Linked DNA regions of Homo sapiens. The protein of the gene in region 1 purifies or fractionates together with the protein of each later gene. This does not show direct contact. Each region holds a gene or a part of one and is shown on either strand. Other genes may lie near its edges. The genes, in order: STAC and SAFB.

Evidence for each region.
Region 2: the proteins of STAC (region 1) and SAFB purify together in Homo sapiens (affinity purification with mass spectrometry; one large-scale study listed by BioGRID and IntAct). This does not show direct contact.

The regions. Positions count from the first base shown.
Region 1 is NC_000003.12:36,484,820-36,488,636, reverse strand, and holds part of STAC (SH3 and cysteine-rich domain-containing protein), read right to left. Parts: intron 3,661-3,817; coding exon 3,579-3,660; intron 2,875-3,578; exon of another isoform or gene 2,712-2,874; intron 2,504-2,711; coding exon 2,388-2,503; intron 1-2,387. UniProt on the Homo sapiens protein: Promotes expression of the ion channel CACNA1H at the cell membrane, and thereby contributes to the regulation of channel activity.
Region 2 is NC_000019.10:5,646,801-5,650,617, forward strand, and holds part of SAFB (scaffold attachment factor B1), read left to right. Parts: intron 1-1,215; coding exon 1,216-1,243; intron 1,244-2,188; coding exon 2,189-2,699; intron 2,700-3,125; coding exon 3,126-3,175; intron 3,176-3,817. UniProt on the Homo sapiens protein: Binds to scaffold/matrix attachment region (S/MAR) DNA and forms a molecular assembly point to allow the formation of a 'transcriptosomal' complex (consisting of SR proteins and RNA polymerase II) coupling transcription and RNA processing.

The DNA.
Region 1 (3,817 bases):
CTGCTGATTTGCAATATCTGTAGGACTGGTTTGGTGCTTGGGCAAGAGGAAATACCTAAGGGAGTCATCAATGTAGAGACGGTGCTTGAACTAAAGGAATGTGACAGAGATCAACCAAAGAGAGTAGAATAAGAAGACCAAGCAAAAGCAGACCCCTGGGAACACTCCAACTTAAGGAGTTACAGGAGGACACATCAGAGAAGGAGATGGGCTGAGCAGAACAGCGAAGTTACCCTCGAGTAAGTCAGGGGTTTCTAACACTGCCCAAGCATGAGTGGCTCTGGGAAATGCCCTTCTCAGGTAACATATTTGCCTTGTTAATGGATTACTTCCTTGTTTAACTTCACAATAATTCAGGTTCAAAGAAAACACTGTTAAGGCTAGATGCGTAATGAAAATGAAACAGCTGGGTGCAGTGGCATGCACCTGTAATCCCAGCTACTCAGTACACTCAGACAGGAGGATCATTTGACTCCAGGAGTTTGAGGCCAGCCTGGGCAATAGAGCAAGACCCCATCTCTCAAAAAATATTTTTAAATGAATTAAAATATAGAACAGTAACAATTTCCATTCATTGAGTGTCAATTATGTCAGGCCCTGTGCTAAACACTTTATGTATATTATTGTTACCCAACCTAAGCAGCCTTTATTTACATATAAATCCTACCCATGTATGCTTTGTATATTTTCATCACATTTAGCACCATTTTTATCCTTCTTTCAGTAAAAGAATTAGCATTATCTTGTGGATGCCAAATAACAATGATCTCCTCCCTAAGGAGGTCATCAGGTATCTTAAAATGACACACATTATCCCCTCACTGCTTTGAGGCAATGTCTACCGAAGTGAAACATTTTTCATCTTTACTATGAAATGCTTCAGTACTCATATGACACAGTCATTATAATATCCTTAACACGTGTATGTTACGTTCTCAATCTTAATAAAATGGGATAAGACATATAAAAGTGTATTTTTTTAAAAATGGTAAACAATGCCACCATTGTCAAATTTCTTCGCTATTGGTTTGGTCTTCAGAAATAAGTTGTGAATTCTAAGGGTAAAAGCTATGACTTCCTCTTCTTTTGTGTCCCCTACAGTGCTAGTAAACTGTAGGCCCTTCATTCATGTCTGCTAACTGAGTAGAAGAAAGAACTATCTGATGTCAATTTTATGTACAGTAAGGAAAAAGAGTAAAAATTATTTTTAGTTCTTTCCTCTTAGAAATCAGTGGATGCATGAAGAACAGGGCTTTCAGTGAGTTTAAAGATGGCTTTGAGGATAGCCACATGGCATCAGGCAGAGGACCTATAATCCTACCTACTTGCCTACCCGACCTATTCACCTACCTACAATCTTGTGGCTTAAACTGCACCCAATAGAGGACCTATAAACCCACCTACTTGCCTACCCGACCTACATTCCTATTCACCTACCTACAATCTTGTGGCTTAACCTGCACCCAATGAGGAAGCTGCTTCAACTCAGTCTCTGAGAACCCCTCCCAGGCATGTGCCCTGCCCCTCTTCCCACAATCCACCTAGTCACTTGATGTTGAGAGGACTCAGTGGGGCAGACCATTTGAAGGCTCATCTGTGTCTTGCCTAGAAGCTTCCAGTCCAGCAGGGGCTGCAACAATGGAAATGGAAACTAGGAGCTGGCTATCCTAAGTGGCCATGTGAACTGGAAGGTCCTTGCCTCTTTGCTGGAGGAATGGTGGCTTTCAGCATGGGCTGCAGAGTTGTATGGCATCTTGGAGCATTTATAGAAATTCTGATTGAAACAACCAGAGACAAGATGATGATAACAGGTCACAGAGATGCATGGAACACTCAGTTTAAGTCAGATAGAACTTAGGAGAGGTGCTTGGAAGAGTGAGTGTCCCACAGAGTCACAGTTCAAGTAACTTTGAGAGTGCAGTTTTTGTGTGCAATCAAGAGGTGTGCCCTCTCTTAGAGAGAAAAGACAAAAGATGTGAGAAATAGCTGTGTCTTTGAACTGGAATGTAGCTAAACGGAAAACTGGAAATAGCCAGGATTTCCAAGTTCCTGACCATTGTTTGAGCCAAACATTTCTGTATGTTGACTCATATGTTATCTAATGTTGGTGGGAGGGTAAAGGAGAGGGGGTCCATGGGAAGGGTCAAGGAGCATGAGGCCAAGGGGATGGTCTTTGGACAGGAAAGTAAAATAATCCCTTGGTGTTGACAACAGGAAGTTAATCCTTAGTGGCTCAAAGCACTTTGGGTTTCTCTTTGGCAGGTGCCTGACTCCCTGCAGACCTGCCCTCATGAGGCAGTCAGGTGGAATACCCCATACTGCAGTGCCTGAGGCCCGCTCTGCCCAAGACCACCACAGACAAACCGAGGAAGGAAGAGGATAATTACAGAGGTTCTGTGAGGTGAGTCAGAGCCACTGCCGGAGCTGCCCTTCTTTGTCCTCTGGGCCAGGGAGGTGCCGAAGCGGAGGGTCTCGTAGACAGGGTCCACCTTATTGCCACAGGCTGCAACAGAAGAGAAAGTTCATCTGAGGAAGCTCATCTGAGAGGACCCAGCCAACTGCCTACCACATCTCCTGGGTGAACAGCGCCTGAGAAGCAGGCTCTGTGCAGAGGAACTTAGCCTCTGGGTAGACAGGGCTTTCATGGCCAAGTGTTCCTCACAGATGCACCCCCACCCAGCATGCTCCCATTTGCAGGTCCTGCCATGTACCAGCTAGTACTCTGCTCCCGAATTCTTCCTGATTGAATTTCCTCTTTCGTTATTCCTCTCTGATTTCCAGGTTCTTGCAGGGATCAGCTTTATCTCCTCTACTGGGAGGCTGTGCTCACCAAGGTACAAAGACTTGAGACACAAAGTTTGCAGTAGGAGGCAACTGTTTTAGAAATAACTTGTCACTACTGGGCTTCATTAATTTCTAATTAAAAGCTTTCTAACTTATAAATTTCTAGTTTAAAACTTGCCCCCCCTAAAAAAAGCAAAAATAGATGTCGAGATTTTCAGAGAGAGAAAAAAAATAATAGAAGTAAACTGAAAGATATTGTTAGAGAAGAATCCAAGCCAAAGCTATCAATAAATAGAGGGCATCTTTTGATCTGCATTAGAGAATAATATATTCACTGAGCTCCTACTAAGCATGGGTGAATAACCTATATTTATTTTTTATAGCAATTATGAAAAGCAGCAATTGCTGTTCTCATTTTGTGGGGGTTGACAGGTCAAGTAACTTGTTCAAAGACACACAGTTGTCAATAGGGAGCTGGGCTTAGAGCCTGGTCTGGGGGAAGCCATTCTCCGTGTTCTTTCCACTCCACCATGCTGCTGATGGTGGAATTACTAATCAGTAGCCTTTGGGATTTAGGTGTTTTCTGAGCTTCATCAGGGAGAGGATGAAAATTCCTGGAGAATTTGGTCCACTTTATGTTTCCCTTCCAGCAAAACACACAGTCATACCCCAAATAGCCACCAAACAAACACACAGAGATACCCCACGGGTTTTGCAGCCATGGGAGGACAGTAGCCATTAATGTTAACTTTGCTGCTTCAAACTCAACTCAACCCATCAATGTCCCAACTCACCAATGGGCATAACTTCTTTAATGCAGCCAAACTGTTCATGAATGAGCAAGGGGGAGCTGTAGTAACGCCGAAACCCCTTTGGCTGGAGAGAGAATGAGGAAGGCAAGGGGTTAATGTCACTGGAGATGGAGAAAACCATACAAGAGCTCCCTAAATAAAACCAATTGGTTTCTCCAGGAGCACCCTCCTGTCTCCCATTAACATGCCGACTTATCCTATAATTCCACAATTTAATCCCA
Region 2 (3,817 bases), on another chromosome or scaffold:
ATGAATGAGAAGGAAGGGTGGTCCCCATGCTCGTGGGGCCTGGCCTGATGGTTAACAGTGCAGACTCACACTCATACACGGCCTTTGCTCAGAGCCTGTCTCTGCTTCCCACCTGCTGTGTGTCCTTGGGCAAGTTACTCAGTCTGTCTGGTCACAGTCTGTTACTCTGTAAAAAGAAGGGTGCTACCATTAGGACCAACCTCCTGCAACCGATGACGAGTCTGTGTGTATGTAAGGTGCTTACATTTGTGCCTGGAACCTAGTCAGTGCCCATCAGTTGACTGGAATTCCAGAGGAGTGTACCTTGTGTGCACAGGAAACATAAAGGCTGGGGGATCACATCATGTGGAAAAAGCTCCTTTGCTTAGTGGGGCACAGCTGGAGTTGGGTTAGAGGGAAATAGGGAAAGCCTTCCTGAAAGGAGATGCCACTGAGCTGGATACTGAGGGATGTGGATGACTTGGCTGGACGGGGCAGGGGAGGGCTGGGCCTGTCAGGGAGGGAGGTGGCATAGGGATCCATTGGCTGAAGGCTGAAGGCCACAGAGGGACATGAGCTTACTGTGGACACAAGGTGCAGAGAGATGGGATGGGGATAATACAACCAGATGCCACAGTAGGCAAGGATGGCACCAGCCTGAGTGGACAGGGCTTCCTGGGAAGAGTCTGAATGACTTCTAGAACTGGCCTGGTGGGAACACTGATTGGAAGAGGAGATGAAGGAGGGAGGGTATTTACAAAGTTTTTCATGCTGGCACCACCATGCCAAGTAAGAGCAGGAGTCATACCACCTGGGCCCATATTCCCTCAGTCTTTCGAATATCAGAAAGTTGTCGTAGCTTCATTGAGTGAAAAAGTGACTGTTAATGTGCCATGCATTCCTCTAGATGCTAACAGTAGAAAAATGAAAACACTGCTCTCCTTGAATTTGAGAGTTCAATCTAGAGGGTCAGGCGTGCTTATGATGAGTGCCTCACCATGAAGTGAGACCAGTTCCAGGCTCCTGCAGGGGAGACTGAATGGAGGGTGGGCTGAGTGAAGTGGATGCCAGTCTTATGGAGCCATTCCTAGAACAAGCAGGTTCTCCACCTCTTGAGTTTGTGAGTTTCCCTCCCTGGATTTTTAAAATTCCCTCTTTAGTTATTCTGGGTTTTCATTTAAATAAACTGTAGGTGTCATTCATCTGGCACAGTCTTATTTACGTTTTTTCTTGCAGGAAATTGAAGAGCCATCCCTGGAGCCAGGTACTGTTAAATGAAAAACTTACCAGCGGGGGTTTGGAACCATTCTAGTTTTCCACCTTCTCTAATTTGAATTCTTTGATTTTTAAAAGTTACCTTACTATAGTATACATTGTTCTAAAGGTTTACAATCCAAAACCTACCAGGATCATAGAGATTGGAAACCCAGCCATATCACCAGATCTGTGAAAGTGGCTCACTTCTCATTTTACAAAATGTATTGGTGAGATGAAAGTATCTCATGCCTTTTTGAATATCAACAGCATTGAATCATACATAGAGAAAGAGTTCCAGATGCCTCTCTTGAGAGCTAATACCTCTGCACCCACAAAACAGATCTTGTGATATTGGGCAGTAGCTTAATTTTGTTGTTTTTAATTGAGGCAGCTCAGGTAGTGGTAGGGAGATACATTTTAAAACATAAATTTGAGACATAACTGGATTCCAGAAGAGGAAAGAGTGTCTTCATGAGAATTCCAAACACTGTTCACTTTCTGGACTGCAAATATCTCAGAGCACGGATGGAAGAGATTCTGGTTTTCATGTTGGACTGTTCTGTTAAAAGAAATTCAAAGAAATTTGGAAATTGAGCTGTTCAGTGAATGGTGATACATTCAGTTAAGCAACTTGGACTTTGGAAGCTAAATTTGGAAGAGTCATATCTAAACGACGACAGAATGAAGACTGTCAAGAATCAGCCAGAAGGTTTTGGGGGTTAAATCTCTGGGATGCTTTTCTCTTCCGTGTAGCGTAGAGGCTTACCTAGAGGCGGTCGCGGCGCAGGTAGTGTAACCAGTATAACTTTGTGTACCCGCGGGTTTTCCAATCTCTGTGTAGCTAGCAGTTCTCTTCGTGTTAGTGTGGCAGCCGTGCCAGTTCCACATTTGTGATTGCTTTATTTCCCTGGTAATTAAACCTTGTGCCATTCTATTCCTGTTAAATCCGTAGAAAATGAGAAAATACTCGACATTTTGGGGGAAACTTGTAAATCTGAGCCAGTAAAAGAAGAAAGTTCCGAGCTGGAGCAGCCATTTGCACAGGACACAAGTAGCGTGGGGCCAGACAGAAAGCTTGCGGAGGAAGAGGACCTATTTGACAGCGCCCATCCGGAAGAGGGTGATTTAGATTTGGCCAGCGAGTCAACAGCACACGCTCAGTCGAGCAAGGCAGACAGCCTGTTAGCGGTAGTGAAAAGGGAGCCCGCGGAGCAGCCAGGCGATGGCGAGAGGACGGACTGTGAGCCTGTAGGGCTAGAGCCGGCAGTTGAGCAGAGTAGTGCGGCCTCCGAGCTCGCGGAGGCCTCTAGCGAGGAGCTCGCAGAAGCACCCACGGAAGCCCCAAGCCCAGAAGCCAGAGATAGCAAAGAAGACGGGAGGAAGTTTGATTTTGACGCTTGTAATGAAGTCCCTCCGGCTCCTAAAGAGTCCTCAACCAGTGAGGGCGCTGATCAGAAAATGAGGTTTGTTTTTTCTCAGTTTTAGACCAGACGCTATCTCCTTTTCATTGGTCATGTAATGACACACATAAGCTGTTTTTTTCTGCAATTGGCCAGCCAGACTGACGAAATTGTAGTTTTGCTTCTAAAGAATGTTTCGTTTCTCTTTGTGTGTTTTTAATGGGTGATTCAATTCCTTTTCTTTTTCTCAACCTACCATGGTTGTGTTCTTAAATTCTTCCTAATTACCTTTAGCCCAGCAGAATTAATTAACTCCTGTGGGTCTGAAATCTTATGGTTAGGTCAGATTTTCAATACAAGTTTGTCGGGGTATCATTTTTTCAGAACTAAATTTCGGGTAGGTATGCAACCTCAGCACGAATTTTATGGTTTTGAGTTTGTTTCCTCCATGCTGCTTCCTTGTGGAGTGACATTGTCTTTTGTCTCTAGTTCTCCCGAAGATGACTCGGATACAAAAAGGCTTTCCAAAGAGGAAAAGGGTAGGTCACCTCGGCGACACCAGTCCCTTGGAGCATGTATGGCCTGGGCAGTGGCGGGTATTTGATTCTGGTTCATCGCGTGCTATGCTCCTTACCCAGGAGACTCCTGAGACGTTTGTGCAGTCTTTCTCCTTCTCTGCTGTTACCGCTACAGGTTCTGGGTTGTAGGAAGCATACCAGGTCCTAAGAGTTAACAGGCTGATTTGGTGCAGATCCTTGTGTTGGGAGCACATTCATCCTGTAACCCTTCATTAAATGCATTAACTGAGAAATAATTTTACCCTACCAAATTCCTTCTTAATCAGTGTTCTAAAGGAGTAAAAACATGGGATAGATACAGAGCTATACGTGGAAAGAGAAACAGTGCATTGTTGACACCAAGGTTGACTGTTCTGCTACATGGCCGTTGCACACTGCACTTCCTCCTGTAATTAAGCGATCGCTAACTTTTTTTGAGACAGAGTCTTGTTCTGTTGCCCAGGCTGGAGTGCAGTGGCGCGATCTCAGCTCACTGCAACCTCTGACTCCCGGGTTCTAGAGATTCTCCTGCCTCAGCCTCCTGAGTAGCTGGGATTATAAGCGCCCGCCACCACACCCAGCTGATTTTTTGTATTTTTAGTAGACATGGGGTTTCACCATGTT